Homo sapiens: one gene and its partners. The protein of the gene in region 3 interacts with the protein of the main gene of each other region in a pairwise test. Each region holds a gene or a part of one and is shown on either strand. Other genes may lie near its edges.

Region 1 (3,754 bases), on a different chromosome or scaffold from region 3:
TCCATCCATCCTCAGCCTCCCAAAAGTAACCACTATTATTGTTTTCCTGTGTATCTTTCCAGAGTTTATTATATACATAAAGGAGTATACAGTGCATACTTTTTCATTTAATACATCTTGAAGTAATTTCCGTTTCTTTTGTTTTTTCTTTTCTTTCTTTCTTGAGACAGAGTCTCACTCTGTCACCCAGGCTGGAGTGCAGTGGCACCATCTCGGCTCACTGCAACCTCCACTTCCTGGGTTCAAGCCATTCTCCTGCCCCAGCCTCTCAAGTAGCTGGAACTGCAGGCACGAGCCACCACACCTGGCTAAGTTTTTGTATTTTGGGTAGAGATAGGGTTTCTCCATGTTGCCCAGGCTGCTTTTGAACTTCCTGAGCTCAAGCGATCTGCCCACCTTGGCTTCCCAAAGTCCTGGGATTATAGGCGTGAGCCACTGCGCCTGGCCTCGAAGTAATTTCTCAGTCAGTAGGGAGCTTCTTCGTTCTTCATGAAATTCATTTTTAGCTATATAGTATTTAAATAATTTATTTAACCAGTCCCGCACTGGTAAACAAGTTGTTTTTAGCCTTTTGCTGTTACTAAGAATGCTGCAATGAATAACCTGCAGTTTTGTTCCTTTGCAAGTGTATCTGCAAGAATAAGTTCCACAAAGTGGAATTGGTGGATTAAGGGCATATGCATTGAAGTACTTATAGATATTGTCAGATTGCCCTTAATAGGTGTTGTACCATTTTGCCACCAGCAATGAAAGAGAATGCCTGTTTCCCCATTGTGCTGACAACAAAATACATCAAACTTGGATTTTTTTCAATCTAAGTGACAGATAGTCTGAGTAGATTTAATATGCATTTTTAAATGAAGTTGAGTGCCTTTTTACCAAGTTTAAGGGCTGATTGGTCTTTGAAAGCTATATATATACACATATATACATGAACATATATATAGACATATATATAGAGAGAGAGCTTAAGACAGTGACCACATCCATTAATCAGCTAAAAGGGGATATCACAGACAATTTTGTATCTAATGAATAACAGTATCAATGTCAAGCAATGCCTAGACTTTTTTCCAAAGATTTTATGTATTTTATTACCCAGTACTCAATGAATATATGAAATATTTGAAAAGGCTAGTTCATTGTTCAGTTCCTTGGGTGTTTGCTGTTTGAATTTTATGTCTCAAAGGCTTGGCAGATTTGGTGTATTGGTGCCTTGGTGAATAGAAGTTGGTGGTCTCTTCATAAATGGCGTTTTCAGGAAGGCCAATTCAGTGGCAGTGTTGAGAATGAATCTACAAACAGAATCAGAGTCTCAGGTTGGTTGAAAAAGCTTCAATGTTTGTGAAGCCCAACCAATCACCTAATAATTGAATCCTATACAAATGCTTCTTCATGCTTTGTTGCATATTTAAGTGTCTTAATTCCTTGTCCTAACCACTAACTAGACATTCATACTGCCCTCAGCATGGTCACACCCCTCACTGCCTTCTCCTGGTTCATCAAACCGTATCACTCTGCTGAAATGCGTTTGTCTTTAGTTGAGAACTATCCCTGCCTTTTACAATTTGTCTCTCTTAGAGGCATGCTGCTTTGACCTATTCACCCTCAATTTTTTTTTTCTTTTTTCTTGAGACGGAGTCTCGCTCTGTCACCCAGGCTGGAGTGCAATGATGTGATCTTGGCTCACTCCAACCTCCGCCTCCAGGGTTCAAGTGATTCTCGTGTCTCAGCCTCCCAAGTAGCTGGGATTACAGGCACCTGCCACCATGCCCAGCTAATTTTTGTATTTTTAGTAGAGACAGAGTTTCACCATGTTTGCCAGGCTGGTCTCGAACTCCTGACCTCAGGTGATCCACCCACCTTAGCCTCCCAAAGTGCTGGGATTACAGGTGTGAGCCACCACGCCTGGCCAACCTATTCACCCTCAATCTAATGACCGTTTAAAACCACTCCCTACAGAATAGATTAATAAAATATTTCCTGATTTAAATTTTTAAATACCTGTGATTTTTCCATTTGTTTTTATTTTTATACATTATAAAGTTACTTGTATGTGTAAGCCTAAAGAAGACTATACTTATAGAGAAAACAAAACTGCAGACTGGAAAGCCCTAGGCATTCAGTGAAACCCAAAAGCTAAAGTTGAGTTCCCCTTGGTTAGTGTATCTGGAGACCTCTCTTTAGGATTATGGTGTAAATTACAGGGATACCTATCCAAAGAATATCTAGAGATATCCCTTTCTCCCTGCTAGCTAGGGATTGTATTTACCTTTCTGACTATTAGTGAAGAAATCAATCTTTTATCATGTTGGGTAAACTGATCCTTTCCCCACTGACTTTGTAGATTAGGAACCTGTAATCATGGCCTTGCATGGCTTAAGATCTTAAGATCATCACTAAAGAATAGCTTAGTGATGTTCATGTCTGCAGTCATCAGAATGTAGTGATAAAAATTGTGTTAATGCCTAGGCCTGAAGAGAGAAAGGAGAGTCTGGTAAGGAGATGAAATAAGTATAGACCCTCTCTGTAGGACCCGCAAAAGGTTTCCAGCCTTATGAAACCTACTTAGTGGAAGCTTCTGCCAGAGGCTGAAGGTGTGTCTGTGTATCTGGTTGGGTGTGGCGAGCTCTCTAGAGCCAAAGGGCAGCCTGTTCTGGTCCCAGGTTTGCCAAACATACCACCTACGTGCTGACCTGAGTATAAGCATGAGGGCGTGAGGTTTATTTTTTACTCCACCTAATTTGGTGAGGTGCATGCTTTCACTCACGCTCCAAGTTGCCTCTTCTTTTCCATGGAACCTGCTTATTCTCACTACGGTTGATAGTGGGTTAGTATAATAGATAACTCTAGAAATCAAAGATGGCCTTTCTCCTTTGGGGACTAGACATTTAGAAGAATCACAATAAATTGGGTAGTTTTTTTTTTAAGCTATAGTTTTTGAACTCTTCCTATATGCCTGGCACTGTGGTTTATCTCATTTAATTTTCACAACTACCATATGAAGTGGGTACTCTTACTGGTCCCAATTAGTAGTTATTAATATCATCTTCTCATTTTATAAATAAGGAAGCTGAGGCTTAGAAAGGCTAATTGATTTGCACAAGGTCACACAGGCAATGATGCATAGTAAACAGGGGTTCATACCCAGGTTTGTCATATTCCACAGCTTGTGTTTTTTCCTCTTCACTAAAAAGATAAAAACAAACCAAAAAACCCCTATTGGTTCAAAGGGCAGTAATTCTTGCTTCCTTATTAAGGATGAGGCTCTTGCAAATAAATTTCTTGGGAACAAGAATTGTGTTTTACTCATCATTGTCAACCTTCTATCATTGTCTACCTTCTATCACTGTATACCTTCTATCATTGTATACTCTCCTACACTTAATTCATACGTATATGTGAAATGGAATATGAATAATCTGACCTTAGGGTACCCTAAACATGAGTAGCTAACAAAAGCAACCGAGACTTATTAAGAACTTACTCTGTACCAGGTACCATTTTAAATGCTTTACATATATTGATGTATATGAAGATAGTTTCAGTTGTTATCTCCATTCGGCAGATGAGGAAACTACACACAAAGATACCAAATAACAAGTTGTAAGTGGTGGATCCAGAATTCTAACCCAGCAGTCTAATTGAAGTCCACATGGTTAAACTCTATGCTATAAATACTTTGAGCAACTCCCAAAGTGGGGCTCCAACTATTGTGTAGACCTATACGTGGATCCTGGAGTAAGGTCAAGTG
Region 2 (3,167 bases), about 160 Mb from region 3:
TCAGGGAGGGGGAGTGCGCAGGGCCTGAGTGGGTGAAGCCCAGAAGGTTCCTCTGTCCAGGGTCAGTCACATGAAGGTGTGACTGGGCCCTCACCCAGCCAAGGTGGATGTAAGGAGGAGAGGCTGGTTGTGGTCCAGGCACAGACACAGTCTCTAGGGAGCATTCCACGCCTGCAGAGAGCAAGTGGCCCAGGGACCTTCGCCCAGTGATTATATGAGGCTTTTTCCAGGGACATTTCTGCCTGTCCGCAGAGTTGAGGGCCCTGCACTTGATTGTGGAGCTGGAGGGTGTGCAGTGTAGGCCAAGTGGGGCAGCTCATTGTCCCCCAACACAACAGGAGCTCCCGGATCAGGGCAAGTCAGGAACATGATGGAAACCAGGTATGGCCAGGACCTCAGGATACCTGGGTTCATATCCTGATTCCATTACTCGCTTGTTTGCTGACTTTGGACAAGGAGTAGACTCTATTTTTTTTTTTTAATTAAATAAGGGGATGGGACTAGATTGTGTCTAAGGATCTATAAACCTGACCACATATATTAGGATTCTTTATATTGTAAGAGACAGAGACCAAATTAAAATTAGCATAAGCAAACAAAGGGAATTAATTGGCCCATGTAACAAAATTATCTGGTTTCTGGCATATCTAGATTCCTCTCTCTCTCTGAGCTTTCAGCTTCTTTCCCTGTGTTGGTCTCCTTTTCTCCTGCTAAAGATGGGCTTTCTCTCCTTGGTGGGAAACACAGTCCATGGCCACCTCCAATTAATTTCATAGCATGTTGGCCCAAGAAACAAGGCTCCACTCTCAGAAATCCCAAGGGAGATTCTAAGTGGCCCAATTTGGGTCATGTGCCACCTCGGTCCAATCATAGGCTGGGCCAGTGGCACATAATGACCTCAATATCAGACCAATTGGTGGTTCCACCAGAATTATACAATAGAGTGGAAAAGGAATTATTCCCCAAGAGAAGGAGATCACTAAAGAGACTAGAAAAGAAAAATGTCCACTCTAGTATGATTATCAGATTTTGGCCTAGTATAAAAGGACCTTATTTCTTCCTCTGTACTGATTATAAACTTGAGCGGTCCAAGCCCCACTCTGATTCTGTAACCTCACTTTCTCCCAGCACTACAGGGGCCAAATATCTATTTGACTCTGGTAGTTCCTTCAGATTTGGGCTCTGACACCATTTGTAGCCTTAAAACAAGTCCCATAATTCCTTTGAAACTTTATTTCCTGCTCTGACCATTGGGGAATTTGTGCTAATTGGTATGATTTTAAAGAACTGCTCATTTTAAAGAATGCTTGATGCTCGAAATAACAAAACACAGGAAACAGCCTAAAAGTTCGCTAGGGGACAGGTTGAAAAGTTATAATGCATTCATATAATGGAATACTATGCTGATGCAAAAAAGAATCAGGACACCCATATATGCCTAACATAGAAAGATCTCCAAGATAGATGTTTGGGGGAAGAGCAAAGTGTAGAGCAGGGGTGTCCAGTCCTTTGGCTTCCTTGGGCCACAATGGAAGAAGAATTCTCTTGGGCCACACATAAAATATACTAACACTAATGATAGCTGATGAGCTTTAAAAAAAATTTCAAAAAAAATCTCAAAATGTTTTATGAAAGTTTACGAATTTATATTAGGCCACATTCAAAGCTGTCATGGGCCGTGGGTTGGACAAGCTTGGTGTAATGTGTTTGAAATTTTAACCATTTGCGTTTTAAAAGGTCATGGGGTGAAATATATTAGCTTGAATATGCCTGGTGAATATGCATTTTTAAGTCCCTGTAAAGATACACAAGAAACTGGCCAGGTGCAGTGGCTCACGCTTGTAATTCCGGCACTTTGGGAAGCCAAGACAGGCAGATTGCTCCAGTCCAGGAGTTCAAGACCAGCCTAGGCAATATAGTGAGACCCTGCCTCTACAAAAAATAAAAAAATTAGCCAGGCATGGTGGCATGTGCCTGTAGTCCCAGCTACTAGGGAGGCTGAAGCAGGAAGATTGTTTGAGCCCAGGAGGTGGAGTTTGCAGTAAGCCGATATCGCGCCACTGCACTCCAACTTCGGCGCTAGAGCGAGACCATGACTTAAAAAAAAAAAAAAAAAAAGATACACAAGAAACTAACAACAGTTCTTTTGGGAACAAGGGTGGAAACTGGGGAGATGGACAGGTATAGGAGGGAGACTTCCCTGAATGCCTTTTTGTACCTTTGAATCTTTAAATCATGTTAGATATTATTGATTTAAAAAAAATTGTTTTTCAAAAAAAGGAAAAATTGCTTAAACAAAGCACATACAAAGTCTCCTTCAGATGCAGAGCTGTATAAAAATACTCTCAGAGAATTACTGTAATCAACGTCAAATACACAAAAACTGATGATGCTGTTTTCTTACTTAGGCACTAAAAGAAGAAATCAAAGAGATGCATGGATTGCGGATATTTACCTCTGTCCCCAAACGCTGACCACGCCCTGGCTGCATAGATGCTGCTGCTTAAGACCTTGGATGAACTTCACTGACATCATTCTTCCCTAAGCAGTCACCAAAAAATTTATATATTTTGCTCATATACATTTCCATATTATAATTATAGAAGATGTATAATCTATTTAGATGTTAATTAAAGGAAACAAACAACTGAAGCTTTTGAAGGGTCATTAGTAATGTTTCAGGTTCCTTTATTTTGGCCAAAGGGGTCTTGTCTTTAGACAGTTCTGTCCTGCTACAGAGAGAGAATGCAGTGCCAGCTTTTTGTCTTTTGAAGAGGTTTTCCTGTTTCTTCCCCTCCACGAAACTGCTCAGGCCTCTTCATCTTACTGAAACAAAGAAAAGATCCTTTACTATTGCTGTTCTTTTCGTTTATCATTCTTTTCTTCCCCCTCTAAACTTCTTACATGAATGATCTTGGACCCTCAATTTCTTATGCTCTGAAATGGACTCTGAAAATTTGGGGGTGCCAGGATCCGGGTTCTTTTCCTGTGTTTGAAGATCCTCCACCCTTTGATTCTTGGTAGGAGGCAGAGCCCACCTCCCACGACAGAAGCTGAAAAGGCTTACTTTCCCTGCCTCCCTCACAGCTGAGGCACAGGCAGATATTCCAGACTCAGCCAATCAGATGGACCTGCCCTGAACTTGGGAGCAAGTCACACCGAGGAGC
Region 3 (3,754 bases):
CAGGCAGGGCAGGTGTGAGGGGGATGCTCGGACCCTGGCTTGCTGGAATGAAAGGAACTAGGGCCTCGCGCCTCATTGTCGGGGCCTCCATCCCCCTCACCTGTAAAATACAGAATGCCCGGCACCACCCTGAAGCTTCACAGACCCCACACATCACCCCCCCACCCCCACCCAAGAAAGGTGGGTGCTCTGTGGGTACAGCTCTCTGTGGGCTGAGCACGTCCAAGCACGTCTCAATGAATCCAAAGCACCCTCCTACGCTCCAACCGGGCATCTCGGAATCTCTCAGCCCTGCTTGCGCTCACCTAGTGAGTGCCTTTGGGCGCTGGCTCCTGCAGGCTCTGCTAGGGTGGCGTCATGGAGTCCTTCTGTAAAAGGCCCTGTAGCAGATACTTTAGGTTTTACTGGCCATGGGGTCACTGCTGCAACCACTCAACCCTGCTGCCATTTTAGAGTGAATAGAGGAGGAGGAACAGCAAGAATATCATTTACAGAGGGTAAGTACCTGAAGAGGTAGAGTTGTGTCTCCACAGAACCTTACTCACAAAACAACAAGAACAGCCAGAGAGCCACAGTGTGCAGACCTCCGTGTCAGAGTGAGATCCATCCCCAGTCCAGCTCACCTGGCCTGACACCTGCTGCCTCTCTCTGCATCTTGAATACCAGCCACCCAGGTACAAAGCTCTCAACATCCAGGCCTGGTGAGGCCCCCATCTGTGTGCTCTATTCTCAACTGAGGCCACCCTCAGGCCAGCCTTGGCATTTTGATGTATTTTTAAAGGAAGCCAAGTCCAATATCAGGACTTGGGGGGTGAGGGGTACAGATCTCCTTGCTAATGGAGAAGAGGATTGTACTGCACACCACAGGGTAACCTTGACTCTCTCCCCAGGGTCCCCCTCTGCAGACAGCCTCTCACCATCACCCTGGCCCTTCTCACCACTAGCTCTGGGAGTCGGGCCAGGCAGACCCCTGCCAATTCCCCTGTATCCCCTGGGGATCCTTCAGGAACCACCCCCCTGAGAAAATGGAAGGGCTCCCTAAATAGCTAACGTCATGTGCCACATCTTGCAATTGTGTTTCTGTGTTTGGTGCATCTGTTTAGCTGGTTATAGAATCCATCCCACCTAACGCAGGCCTGCAAAAGGGTTCATGCTCAACAGATGCCTGTTAGATGAGTAAATGAATGAGTGAATTTGGAGATGTGCAGCTTATCCATGTCAGAGTCCGAATTTGAAACCGAGGCTCTGATTCTGCATGTGTTCCCCCAGGGGGAATGGGCATAAAGAACACGCTGGCTTTCCCCATTTCAGGTGAAAACTGGGTTTCACTGCCTAGGCAGACTGTGCCCACAGCAGGATGGGAAGGAGGCCAGCAGCCTGCAGATGCCCCATACAGTTACTCCTGAGCTTCATGACAGGTTAGCCTTTTTAAGAAACACAGAGAGAAGGTCTCCCTCCCCGCCCACCCCCAAAATGATCTTCCCACCCCCAATCCAGGCCAAGCTGGTAAACCAAGTCCAGGCAGGAAGGAAGATGCTGTTGGGGTAAATAAAGCAAGGGAGCAGTGTTAGCAGGAGGGCGGCCTGGGTGGTGGGAGAGGACAGCTGGTTTAGGCCGCTGAGTGGCCAGGGCCCAGGAGGCTTCTTCCGGGCTGTCCCTTCCACCAGCATAATCCCTCGCACCCAGCCCGACCCTTTGGGGCCAGAGGTCCTACCCCAGAATCTCCACCCCCTGCAGACTCCAGCTGAGCTGAAACCTGACCCAGAGCCAAGGGCATTTCCTGTCTTTGTAGATTCTGTGGCTGCCCTCTTGGACCTCACCCCCTCCCCTCACGCACTGGACACAGGCAGCTCAAGGTCCCAGCATGGGGATTCCTAGGTGGGCCTCGTCCCCATCTGCCCCAGGTGTGGGTCAGCAGCCCAGACTTCTGCACTGAAGACCAACAAAGGGGTGCTCTGCCCTCACTTACAGCCCACCGTAGGCAGGATACTCTTGAAGTCGTTCTTCACGTACCGAAGAGCCAAGCTGGACTTACCCACGGAGCCACTTCCCAGGAGAACCAGCTTGAACACACGGGGCTGGCTGGGGGCAGCCCTGGGCTGGGGGGTCCTGTGTGCCTGTGCCATGCCCTGCAAAGAATCACAACCGTCTGAAGCAAGTGGAACATCGGAGCCACATCATCTCAGCAAGCTCAACCCCGGGGCTGCTTCTCGGTCAGGAGCAGATGGCCCAATACAGAGCTCCCAACTCAGAGGCCACCTAGGTCCACACTCCTGCTTCCCTCTGCACCCCATGCCCCATCTCCCCATCTGCAATTTTTAGGTCCATTTTTAGGTCTGTGGTAAGGAACAAAAGGAGCTTTGCTTGGAAAGCTCCGGGCACGGGTCATTGCAGACCCTGAAAAGCAATGATTACATGTGACGGTCTCAGGGCTTGTTGTCCTCCTTCCATTACTTTCAGTTTTTACAAATCTATTACTTGTCCCCAAAGTATCTAATGCAAGGAGAGGTAAAAAGCATCTGAGCATTTCTTGGGTGGTTGTTCATGGATTAAAGTTGGTGTTTCAGAAAAAATCTACCTAAAAAAAGGTTGGTGTCTCAATGATCTCAAAACATCGTAGACACATTCCCATTGTGTCTAAAGCCTCAGAACCCACAGTAATATGCCCCAGAGAAAACCAACTTCGTGATCAAAATAAACGTGGGCGACCCCTGCGTATTTTTCATCATAGAAACTTTCATGTACACACCACAATAGAGAGAACGGTCCGATGGGCCCATAGACCCACCTCCCGCTTCCCCAGTAATCAGCTCAGCCATTTGTATCACTCACACTCCCAAACCTCCCCCTGCAGGGTACTGTGTAAAGCAGATCCCAGGCATTCTATCATCTGCAAATCTCAGTAGAGATACAGGTATTTTTTTTTCTTTGCAGTTCATGTGTTGAAGAAATCAGGTTGTCCTGTAGATTTCCAGTACGGATGTTGCTGATTACACCCCTGTGTTATTGAATAGAGTCCTATGAACTCTGTATTTTTGATACCGCGGTGGTTCAGGACATAAACCTGATTAGATACAGGCTATTTTTTGGCAAGATTGCCATGAGAGTGTGCGTGCACTTCCCACAGAAGGCAAATAATGTCCAGTTGTCTTTCTGTGATGTTGGCAGTCACTGAAGACTATTACTTCGACCCACTATTTTACTAAGGGGTTGCAAAATGGTGACATTCTAATAATGTTCTAATGTTATCACTTTGTGTTTATTATCTAGGAAGAGAAGCTCCCCACAAAAAATATGAAACCCATCAGGGGCAGCTGGTCCTGGGAACAGAGTCTCTTCTCCCTTCCTCACCACAGTGGGCAAGAGGGAGGCTCCCTAAAGGGGGAAGGGGAGGAATTTTGAAAAGGAAAGAAGAAAAGCAGGAGTGGTTGGAAGCAGCCCACATGCCCTCACTGCCGCCAGTAAGGAGCCATGGCCACAGACTGGTCTGGTCTGCCCTGCAGGGATAAGAGGGGAGGGAATCAAGTTTGGAATCAATCTCAAAACAAATAGGACTGAGTCCTAGATACCAAGAAGATCGTTCTAGAGAGAAAGTGACTGAGAGTCATGGAGTCCAGAACAGGAGGGTTTAGGGCTCTCTACCCATCAGAGAAGAAGGGTTCCACATAGTAGACTCGGGTGGTTATCCCAAACATGCCTGGAACCCCATCTTAGCTGGAAATACTCAAGTTTCACCATCAAGTATGATGCTGGC

What was found.
Region 1: the proteins of RAB17 (region 3) and CSTPP1 interact in binary tests that used the Homo sapiens proteins (3 or more experiments, as listed by UniProt).
Region 2: the proteins of RAB17 (region 3) and BOLA3 interact in binary tests that used the Homo sapiens proteins (3 or more experiments, as listed by UniProt).

What each region holds. Positions count from the first base shown.
Region 1 is NC_000011.10:46,939,726-46,943,479, forward strand, and holds part of CSTPP1 (centriolar satellite-associated tubulin polyglutamylase complex regulator 1), read left to right. Parts: intron 1-3,754. UniProt on the Homo sapiens protein: Regulator of the tubulin polyglutamylase complex (TPGC) that controls cytoskeletal organization, nuclear shape, and cilium disassembly by balancing microtubule and actin assembly.
Region 2 is NC_000002.12:74,134,900-74,138,066, reverse strand, and holds the end of BOLA3 (bolA-like protein 3), read left to right. Parts: intron 1-2,408; coding exon 2,409-2,474; coding exon of another isoform or gene 2,475-2,545; 3' UTR 2,546-2,667; downstream 2,668-3,167. UniProt on the Homo sapiens protein: Acts as a mitochondrial iron-sulfur (Fe-S) cluster assembly factor that facilitates (Fe-S) cluster insertion into a subset of mitochondrial proteins. Probably acts together with NFU1.
Region 3 is NC_000002.12:237,584,029-237,587,782, forward strand, and holds part of RAB17 (ras-related protein Rab-17), read right to left. Parts: intron 2,130-3,754; 5' UTR 2,127-2,129; coding exon 1,970-2,126; intron 1-1,969. UniProt on the Homo sapiens protein: The small GTPases Rab are key regulators of intracellular membrane trafficking, from the formation of transport vesicles to their fusion with membranes.